Regions from separate parts of the Homo sapiens genome. Here region 1 is linked to region 2. Evidence: fine-mapped expression QTL. Tissue or cell type: hypothalamus. Region 2 holds a variant in brackets; the other region holds the start of a gene. All regions are shown on one strand. Distances are from middle to middle.

Region 1 (5,381 bases), 140 kb before region 2:
AACCACTGCTCAAGGAAATAAGAGGACACAAACAAATGGAAGAATATTCCATGCTCGTGGATAGGAAGAATCAATATCGTGAAAATGGCCATAGTGCCCAAAGTCATTTATAGATTCAATGCCACCTCCATCAAGCTACCAATGACTTTCTTCACAGAATTGGAAAAAACTACTTTAAAGTTCATATGGAACCAAAAAAGAGCTCACATTGCTAAGACAATCCTAAGCAAAAAGAACAAAGCTGGAGGCATCACGCTACCTGACTTCAAACTATACTACAAGGCTACAGTAACCAAAACAGCATGGTACTGGTACCAAAACAGAGATATAGACCAATGGAACAGAACAGAGGCCCCAGAAATAACACCACACATCTACAACCATCTGATCTTTGACAAACCTGAGAAAAACAAGCAATGGGGAAAGGATTCCCTATTTAATAAATGGTGCTGGGAAAACTGGCTAGCCATATGTAGAAAGCTGAAATTCGATCCCTTCCTTACACCTTATATGAAAATTAATTCAAGATGGATTAAAGACTTAAATGTTAGACCTAAAACCATAAAAACCCTAGAAGAAAACCTAGGCAATACCATTCAGGTCATAGACATGGGCAAGGACTTCAAGACTAAAATACCAAAAGCAGTGGCAACAAAAGCCAAAATAGACAAATGGGATCTAATTAAACTAAAGAGCTTCGGCACGGCAAAAGAAACTACTGTCAGAGTGAACAGGCAACCTACAGAATGGGAGAAAATTTTTGCAATCTACCCATCTGACTAATATCCAGAATTTACAAAGAACTCAAACAAATTTACGAGAAAAAAACAACCCCATCAAAAAGTGGGTGAAGGATATGAACAGACACTTCTCAAAAGAAGACATCTATGCAGCCAACAGACACATGAAAAAATGCTCATCATCACTAGTCATCAGAGAAATGCAAATCAAAACCACAATGAGATACCATCTCATGCCAGTTAGACTGGTAATCATTAAAAAGTCAGGAAACAACAGATGCTGGAGAGGATGTGGAGAAATAGGAATGCTTTTACACTGTTGGTGGGAGTGTAAATTAGTTCAACCATTGTGGAAGGCAGTGTGGTGATTCCTCAAAGATCTAGAACTAGAATAACCATTTGACCCAGCAATCCCATTACTGGGTATATATCCAAAGGATTATAAATCATGCTACTATAAAGACACATGCGCAAGTATGTTTATTGTGGCACTATTCACAACAGCAAAGACTTGGAACCAACCCAGACGTCCATCAGTGATAGACTGGATTAAGAAAATGTGGCACATATACACCATGGAATACTATGCAGCCATAAAAAAGAATGAGTTCATGTCCTTTGCAGGGACATGGATGAAGCTGGAAACCATCATTCTCAGCAAACTATCACAAGGACAGAAAACCAAACAGCACATGTTCTCACTCATAGGTGGGAATTGAACAATGAGAACACTTGGACACAGGGCGGGGAACATCACATACCAGGACCTGTCAGGGGGTGGGGGTCTGGCGGGGGGATAGCATTGGGAGAAATACCTAATGTAAATGATGAGTTGATGGGTGCAGCAAACCAACATGTATACCTATGTATCAAACCTGCACATGTATACCTATGTATCAAACCTGCACGTTGTGTACATGTACCCTAGAACTTAAAGTATAATTTAAAAAAAAATCAGATCTCGTGAGACTTATTCACTACCATGTGAACATTATGACGGAGACTGCTCCCATGATTCAGTTATCTCCCACTGGGTCCCTCCCACAACACGTGGGAATTATGGAAGCTGCAATTCAAGATGAGATTTGTGTGGGGACACAGCCAAACCATGTCACCATGGAATAGTACACAGCCCCCCAAAAGAATGAAATCATGACTTTTGCAGCAACATGGATAGAACTGGAGGACATTATCCTAAGTGAAACAACTCCAAAACAGGAAGACAAACACCCCATGTTCTCACTTATAAGTGGGAGCTAAACACTGTGTAGACATGGACATAGACAGTGGAATAAGAGACATTGGAGACTGGGAAAGGAGGGAGGGGAGAGGAAGGTGAGGGATGAGAAATTACCCAGTGGATACAATGTACACTATTTGAGTGATAGTTACAGTAAAAGCCCAGACTTCAGCACTCTGCAATCTCTCCATGTAACAAAACTGCACTGGTATCCCCTAAATCTATAAAAATAAAAAAACGTTTAAAAATTACAAATAAGAGGCCAGGTGTGGTGGCTCATGCCTGTAATCCCAGCACTTTGGGAGGCTGAGGCTAGTGGATTGCTTGAGTTCAGGAGTTCGAGAGCAGCCCGGGTAACATGGCAAAACCCCATCTCTACAAAAAAATACAAAAAGATTAGCCAGGCAGGTGGTGCATGTCTGTAGTCCCAGCTACTTGGGAGCCTGAGGTGGGAGTATTTCTTGTACCCAGGAGATCGATGCAGTGAGCCAAGATCACACCACTGCACTTCAGCCTGGGCAACAGAGGGAGACCCTGTCTCAAAAAATAAAAATAAAAGTAAAAATACTCAACCTTACCTTATTCTTAAGTATCCATTGCTGTGTGGCTCTGGGGTGGCTGTGCCTCCTGGGGTAAAAATGTACCAGCATTTTTCTGCAAAGAATGGGGAATAAATAGGGTTTGGAGAAATGGAGTCTCTATGAAGGTATTTACTTACAACGCAAGAGGACATGGGGAAAACCACAAGTCATTTTATTTTGGTTTCTTCAACAATGAAGGACTTCCTCTCTTTGAGGAAGATGGTGCTTTCTGTGTGTGTGTGTGTGTGTTTGTGTGTTTGTGTGCGCACACACACACACACACACACACGCTCATTAAGCATTTACAGTCCTGGAATGTTATTCTGACTACTCATAGCAACTCCACTTCCTGCCCACCCAAACAGTCATCCGTTATGGAAAATATGCCTGCCTCTGAAATATTTACCGGTGCCCCGGAGTGCCACACAGGCATTTCTTATAAATACTCAACCTTTTGCTCAAGTCTCCAGGGGTCCCTTTTCTCTCTGGGTAGCAGGGTGAGTGTCCATGATTTGCTGACGCTGCAAGCTCCCCCATGTCCAGCTGCTCTGTGATATTTATTTTCCACCTCCGATAATTAACCTCATCCTCCTCTCAAAATGTAAGCAGCAGGCAGCTTTAGAAAGATGGTGCAGATTTGCAGATTGCAGGCTTCAACATGCAGGACCTTGTCGAGTGCATTCAGAGGCTGGTTTGATTGAAGGAGATTTTTGATGGCACAGTGAGTCAGGGCAGCTACAGAGGTACCACTGGACGGTGGAAAGCCACCGTGGAACGAAAGTCTCTGCGGGAATCAGCTGAGTGGCCTTGAATTAGAAAGGGATGTGGGGCAGATGTAAGGAGTTGACACTGAATTTGCACAATGCTGCCTTGTGTGTTTTCTTGCCTGTCTCCACGACCCCTCTCGAAAGCCACCTGGAAATACTGGACGCATAAACTTGGCATGGATTTAACATCATGCTAGCTGGCAGAACTCAGTGATCCCTGAGCTAAGCCAAAGGGGTAATAAATTAAAGACATGCTATGTTGGAAAGAGCTGCAGGGGGAAGCAGATTTATCAATGCGAGGGATGTCTGTAGGCACAGCGGACATTGTCATCTCCCCCCATTCCCCAGACAGACTGGGACAGGAAGAGGAAGCTCATTATTAGATCTGTAATTCATCTCGGGGGTTTTACTGCTACTCTAGCAAGCTCTAAGTGACAAGGATAATTTCTCTTTCGGCACAAACAGTTCTATTACAAATGTGATCTCTCTGGGCTTCCAGTATAAGCCCACTGCTACTGGCACGAATGAAAGACCTAGTAAAAAGAAAGTTGTCTCTGCAAAATGTTGGCACTGCAGAGACTGGGGGTTAAAAAGTTTGAAAAGGGGCAGCTCACGCACTCTTTCTTTACTGCTCAGAAGGTATTATGGTCATATTTGCGACTGCAGAGTCGATCTACATGTTTATTTGGTGGAAAATAAGACGACTCAATTGATTATTTAATTTATCCATTTGTTTTCATGAAACAGACTCTGTTTGGTACAAAAGCATCACAATGAATAAAAGAAGAAAATATACAGTGTATCCTGAAAGCCTGAGTTCAGGCGCAGAGATGAACTTGGCTGTTACATCTAAAGAGGAATTTCCATCCTAAAAAGGAAAGTGCTCTGATGCAAAGACCCTGTTACTTTAATGCTGTGCTTTTAGACAAGTTGGGAAGGGAACTGTGAGTACGACAGGCCCCACATCTCCCGAAGCTACCATAGAATCTGATATTTTGAATGAGGACAAGGAGACTTTGTTCTTATAGAACTAGTCTGTTTGCAGTTTGCAGGACTCTGCGATGCTAAACAGACATAAAAATCACACAAACTGGCTAGGCACAGTGGTTCGGTTCATGCCTGTAATCCCAATAGTTTTGGAAGCCAAGGTGGGAGGATCCCTTGAACCTAGGAGTTCAAGACCAGCTTGGGCAACATAGCAAGGCCCCATCTCTACAAAAAAAAAAAAATTATCCAGGTGTGGTGGCACATGCCTGTGGTCCTAGCTACTTGGGAGGCTGAGGTGGAAGGATTGCTTGAGCCCAGGAGTTCAAGACCAGCCTGGGCAACATAGTGAGACTTCATCTCTACTTTTTTTATGAAAATGAAAAAAAAAGATATACATTCTATTTGGGAGACTGAGGTGGGAGGATCGCTTTTGTTCAGAAGGTCAACAGTGCAGTGAGCTATCATCTCGCCACTGCACTTCAGCCCGGGTGACAGAGCAAGACCCTGTCTTCAAGAAAGAAGAAGGATGAGGAAGAAGAGGAGGAGGAGGAAGAGGAAGAGGAAGAAGAAGAAGGAGGAGGAATCATGTAAACAGATCCAATTAGTACATCTGCTAAAGTAAAGATTTGTTCTACTGTGCAGAGTCCGCTCTGTGTATCTGTCATATTGGAAAACATACTGCATTGGGAAAAATATTAAAATTTGATCTTCTCAGACTTGTTAGGTAATTATAGGAGCTTCTCAATCCTTCTTATGTTGTTCTTTTTTTACTTTTTCCTTCCTCATCTTCATCATCATTTCGGACCTCCTAAATTATGCACGAAGCACCCTCATGAGTCAGGGTCCAAGTTGAGATGCTCTATCTGCATCTCTCAAAACCCCAAGCGTATGCATCCAAAGCTAATTGACGAGTGCTCTATTTCTTCAGGAATCAGTTCAATTGGTTTCTACCCATTGGTATTAACTACATGACTTTTGGAGAGAAACTATCGAGTCTAGACATGGAAGTGTTGAAGTTAGAGTAACCGTAAGAGAATTATTTATTTCACTAACATTTGTTGAACAT
Region 2 (5,381 bases):
CTGGAAGAGGCAGGAAGCATCCTCCCCTAGAGCCTCCGGAAGGAAGTGAATACAAATGTAGTGGACTAAACAGTGGCCCCCAGAAAGATCTGTCCATATCCTAAAGCCTAGAATCTGGAATGAGACCTTATTTGGAAATAGGGTCTTTGCAGATGTAATTAGTTAAGGATCTTGACATGAAATCATACTGGATCACAGTGATTTCTAAATCAAATGAGAGGTGTCCCTATAAGAGACAGAAGAGCAATGGATGATTTGATGCAGAAAATACATAAATAAATGCAATAAAATAAGAGACAGAAGAGGTAACACAGACACAGACACAGAGGAGCAGGCCATGTGGAGACGGAGGCAGAGACTGGAGTGGTGCGGCCACAAGCCCAGGGATGCCTGGAGCCCCCAGGAGCCGGGAGAGGCAGGACGGAGCCTCCCCTAGAGCCTCTGGAGAATCGTGGCCCTGAGATGCTTTGATCTCAGGCTCGGGTGTTCTGAACTGGGGGAGAATAAAGTCTTGTTATTTTTAGCCACCCAACGTATGTTAATTTGTTAGGGGCCTCAGTACATTCCTCCAGAAGTTTTCCTGGAAGCTGCCAATTTTGCCTTTTTAGCAATACCCGTTTCCTTGGTCCCATAAGGCAGGAACCATTCAGGGCAAAGAGAACGGCTGGGGTGCAGCATGCCTTCTTCGAAGTGCGCTTCTGCAGGTCACGGGCTTCATCTCTCTCTGCATCCTGCCTGTCCAAGATGGTCATTGGCATCAAACTCTGTCTTGATTTCATGGCATAATAAAATTGTCCCATGAAATTCCTCCCCTCTGCTTTACAGCTTGCCTGACTTGTCCTCTTTTGCTCTGGGGAAAGCTATAAAATTACACACTGAAAAAAACGGATTTGGCACTCCAGTCTCCCAATTCCACGTGTCAGAGAGGCTGCATGTAAAAAATTAAACAGACAGGGTAGATTGTCTTCCCTTTATCAGAAAGTAGGAAAAGTAGACACTTGTAGAGACAGGGGTTTCTGTTTAGAAGGAGGAAGCATCGCTCTTTTTAGCATAAGAGTTTTGCAAAATGAGCATGGCTTTTGTGAACGTATAGATCTGAATCAAAATGAAAAAACTGGCTTTCGATTCGGGAGCAAATCAAACTTTGAAATCATGAATGTTGGTGTGTTCTTTTACTCTTGTGTCTTTACTCTTGAAGGACTTGGAACTTTCTGCAAATTCTTCTCCAAATATTTGGGAGGGGCCGCCAGGTGATCTCTCTTGGGGTTATATACAAAGCAGACACCTTGTTTTTGGTAAACACAACAAACATTTTTTTCTCCATCTTTGGGCTTCTTGGGAATATAACTTTTATAGCCAAGCACCAAGGTGCTCCACTGTGGGTCAGGCATGGTGACTCATACCTGTAATCCCACCACTTTGAGAGGCCAATGTGGGAGGATCACTTGAGGCCGGAAGTTCAAGACCAGACTGGACAGCATAGCAAGACCCCTTCTCTATTAAAAAAAAAAAAAAAGTGCTCCACTGGGAAAATTCTCCTTCTTCACTTCCTACGACCATCTCCCTCTCAATGTCACCACTACTGCTGAAGCAATGCTGTCATATCTTTGCCACTCTCGGCAGCATGGAATATAAGCATGCCTCTCTCTCTCTTGCTGTTTCTCTCTGAGAAAACCCCAGAAACCTAGCTCACACCCAAAGCCTCACATAGATTGCAATGAAAGATCTCTTTCCTCTCCTCTTATACCTTCTTATTACTTCCTAAAAGGACTACAGATGTTGATCCAAACATTTACTAATAGTATGACCCCATTCATGGAATATCTTTACAATGTAGTTTTTTGTTTTGTTTGGTTTTTTTTGTGTGTTTTGAGACAGACTCTCACTCTGTCACCCAAGCTGGAGTACAATGGTACAATCTCGGCTCACTGCAACCTCCGCCTCCCAGTTTCAAGCCATTCTCGTGCCTCAGCCTCCCAAGTAGCTGGAATTACAGGCGTGTGCCACCACGCCTGGCTAATTTTTGAATTTTTAGTAGAGACAGGGTTTCCCCATGTTGGCCAGGCTGGTCTTGAACTCCTTACCTCAAGTGATCCTCCTGCCTTGGCCTCCCAAAGTGCTGGGATTACAGGCATGAGCCACTGTGCCTGGCCTGGAAGTTACGATTATTAACAAGACAAAATAACATATAGGTCAGAGGTATGAAAATCAAGATAGAACTCTTTTAGTATCCTCAGGTAGACATGTATTCAACTTTTGGTCAAGTGTAGATGCCTATTTTTAAAAAAATATTTGGTTGGAGAGGACACAGAGAAGCTAAGGGGGTTGGTGAATGCAAATGGGAAGAAAGAATGCTTAATGCATCTTGAGAAAAGTAGAGGCAAGCCCTGCGATCTAGTCAAAAGTTTTATAAAAGCATCATTAAAAGATGGCATGAGAATCCTTATTCTCTGTCTCCACAGATGTTCAAAGCTGAGAAGAGAGGAAGCTGCGCTGTCTTATTAAAATGGAGTCAACTACAGAGGCACGTAAGTGATTTCTTCTATCAAAACCAATCAGCAGTGGGATCTGTAGAGACCTGTCCAAGCTCCCTTCCAACCGTATATTTCCATGAACGTGCCCCAGGTTATGAAATCAGTTCCAGGACCAGAGTTCACAGTCCCTCCGAGCCCACTTAGACTTGCATTACAGAAAACGACAGGGGTCCTCAACTCTGTATTTGAAAAATAAATATGGTCCTAATTATACTAACTACCTTTCCAAGCCAGAAGTTTTATCCATTTCACCTTAAGGTCATGTATTCGGGAAAGGACAACCTCACATGTGGAAGCCATTTCTCTACAATTTACTAGGTGATCACAGGCTTCATTTCATCAAACCATTTTTCTACAGTAGCCTCATAAAATTCCCAGAAATACCAAGGTGAGGAGTGGCCATTTGCTGCTATGTTCTTTCCTTGGTTGGTTCCATTATAGCCCTTCAAGGATAGAGCAACCAGGAGTGATGGCCCACACCTGTAATCTCAGCTTTGTGGGAGGCGGAGGTGGGTGGATCACTTGAAGCCAGAAGTTTGA[G/A]ACCAGCCTGGCCTACATGGCAAAACTCCATCTCTATGAAAAATACAAAAATTACCTGGGCGTGGTGGTGCACACCTGTAATACCAGCTACTCAGGAGGCCGAGACAGGAGAATTGCTTGAAACTGGGAGGTGGAAGTTGCAGTGAGCCAACATCACGTCACTACACTCCAGCCTGGGTGACAGTGAGACTTTCTCCCCAACCCCTAAAAAAGGAAAGAACAAAAGATCAAAGAAGACTTCTGACAATAATCCTACTTCTTTCTCAGAGATGGTGGTCTGGAACAAGAAAACAAGGATGAATAATAGTGAAGTTGATTTATTGGAGGCTGCGAATATCATTTAATCATGAATCATTTAATCTTCCTGTCTTGTGGCTTGACCCTAAATAGCTCCTGGACCAGTCTACATCGTGCCAGCTCTCATAATGTTAGGAGCCAGGTGGAAGATTTCATCATCTCTTCCTTTCTTGATTGCAACACCCCACTAACTTGTACCGCCTCAATTCCCAGCCTTATTCTTCTCTAGTCCAAAACCCTCTGGACACAGTAGAAGATGAGATTATAGACCTGACCACGCTGTGTTCTGTGTAGACCCATTTCATGGTTTTCCACTGTTCCTGGGATAAAGAAGAAGCTCCTCATCTCGGACCACGAGGTCTGAATCATCTGTACTTGTTGCTTCTTTCCTGCTACCTCTCCGTCCTCAATGTTTGCCATCGTTTACCTCATTCTGTGTCTCCCAGCCACACTGCAGTTCTTACTGCTCTTCAGGGTTGCGTCACCCATTTTGTTACTGAGCAATGGGCTTGCTGCTTGACATGTATATAAGCCAATACTAGGGCATTGCTTTGGGGATTTTGTTGTTATTGTTTAAGACAGGGTCTCACTCTGTTGCCCGGGATGGAGTGCAGTGGCACGATCTTGACTCAGCGCAGCTTCTGCCTCCCAGGCTCAAGTAATCCTCCCATCTCAGCCCCCCGAGTAGCTGCGACCACAGGCACACATCACCATGCCTAGTTAATTTTTGTATTTTTGGGTAGAGACTGGGTTTTGCTGTTTCCCACGCTGGTCTCCAACTCCTGAGCGGAAGCAATCCACCTGCCTCAGCCTCCAAAGTGCTTGGATTACAAGTGTGAGCCACCACGCCGTGCTGTAGGGTACCGGTTTTTTTTTCTTTTTTCTTTCTTTTTAAGACTTTATTGTGAGGTCAACTGGCAAGGAGACAGGAGGCAGGGCTCAAATCTGTCTCCCTGATCTGGGGAGTTAGCTCAAATGTTTATGGGTTAAGAAGTATGTGGCTGGGCACAGTGGCTCATGCCTATAATGATGGCACTTTGGGAGGCCGAGGCAGGAGGATTGCTGGAGGACAGGAGTTCAAGACCAGTCTGGGCAACATAGCGAAACCATATTTCTACAAAAAATACAAAAACTAGCCAGGTGTGATGGTGCATGCCTGTGGTCCCAGCTACCCACCCAGGAGGTGGATGTGGGAGGATCAATTAAGCCCAGGAGGTCAAGGCTGCAGTGCACCATGATCACGCCACTGTACTCCAGCCTGGGCGAAAGAGCAAGACCGTGTAAAAAAAAAAAAAAAAAGAAAGAAAAGAAAAGAAAAGAAAAAGAAGTATGTGGAAGTGCTGGTGCGGCAAGTTTTAATCAAAGGGCTTTAACCTTGGCTATTATAATAAGGTATGGAATGGTGGATTTCAGCACAATGTCTTCTGGGAGAGTAGACCTTTTGCTTCTGAATGGGTTTCTGCATCCTGGTTCTGGTCATGTCCAGCTGTCTTTGGTTCCATAGGGAAGCATCATCAGTTTCCAGTGTGATTGGAGGTCAAAGCTTTTTCCCTTTGCCTGTGCCCAGGCTACACAACATGCAATGTTGGTTCTGTTTCAACTGTATAACAGCTTAAACAATTGAGTTGAACTGGTTCAACCTGATCTCATGGTTACAGTTTCCCTACTCCATTCCTTGCTAAACTCTACCAGGAAGGACCCAATGCTCCATATTACCACCCCTTACCCTACTCACCCATCAGATTTTCCTTCAAACATCACTTTCTCGGGAAATCCTTCCTTCCTTTCCAAACTTGGGGAATTTCCTCTAACGTTCCTTTATTTCTACTGCCAAACACTCCTCCTGGTACTAATGAAGTAGGAACTAGTACTGTTATTTCTCTCTCCACTAAAACATAAGAGAAAGACAAATATGGTAACCACACTGCTAGCATGTTCCCTCGGGGTATTCTCCACTCATTACATGCTTTTTGAATATGTAATATGTAAATTTGCCAATATGTAAATATT

Which allele goes with the higher level. Alleles are on the strand shown, and positions count from the first base shown. SD is a standard deviation of normalised expression in the study named.
With allele A in place of G in region 2, the expression in hypothalamus of the gene that starts at base 3,111 in region 1 is lower (large effect, 1.1 SD a copy in GTEx).

Evidence for each region. PIP is the estimated chance that this variant, and not a neighbour inherited with it, causes the effect.
Region 1: LINC01546 starts here. The variant in region 2 is the best candidate, but not a certain one, in a credible set for the expression of LINC01546 in hypothalamus (GTEx, PIP 0.65).

What each region holds. Positions count from the first base shown.
Region 1 is chrX:3,269,550-3,274,930 of GRCh38, reverse strand. LINC01546 (long intergenic non-protein coding RNA 1546) reads right to left here and starts at 3,111. Exons shown (of 3, transcript NR_038428.1): 1 at 3,013-3,111; 2 at 2,559-2,634.
Region 2 is chrX:3,127,581-3,132,961 of GRCh38, reverse strand. No RefSeq gene overlaps it. Among named protein-coding and RNA genes, the nearest start is that of ARSF, 89 kb to the right of the region's middle. The variant G/A (reference allele first, on the strand shown) is at 3,075.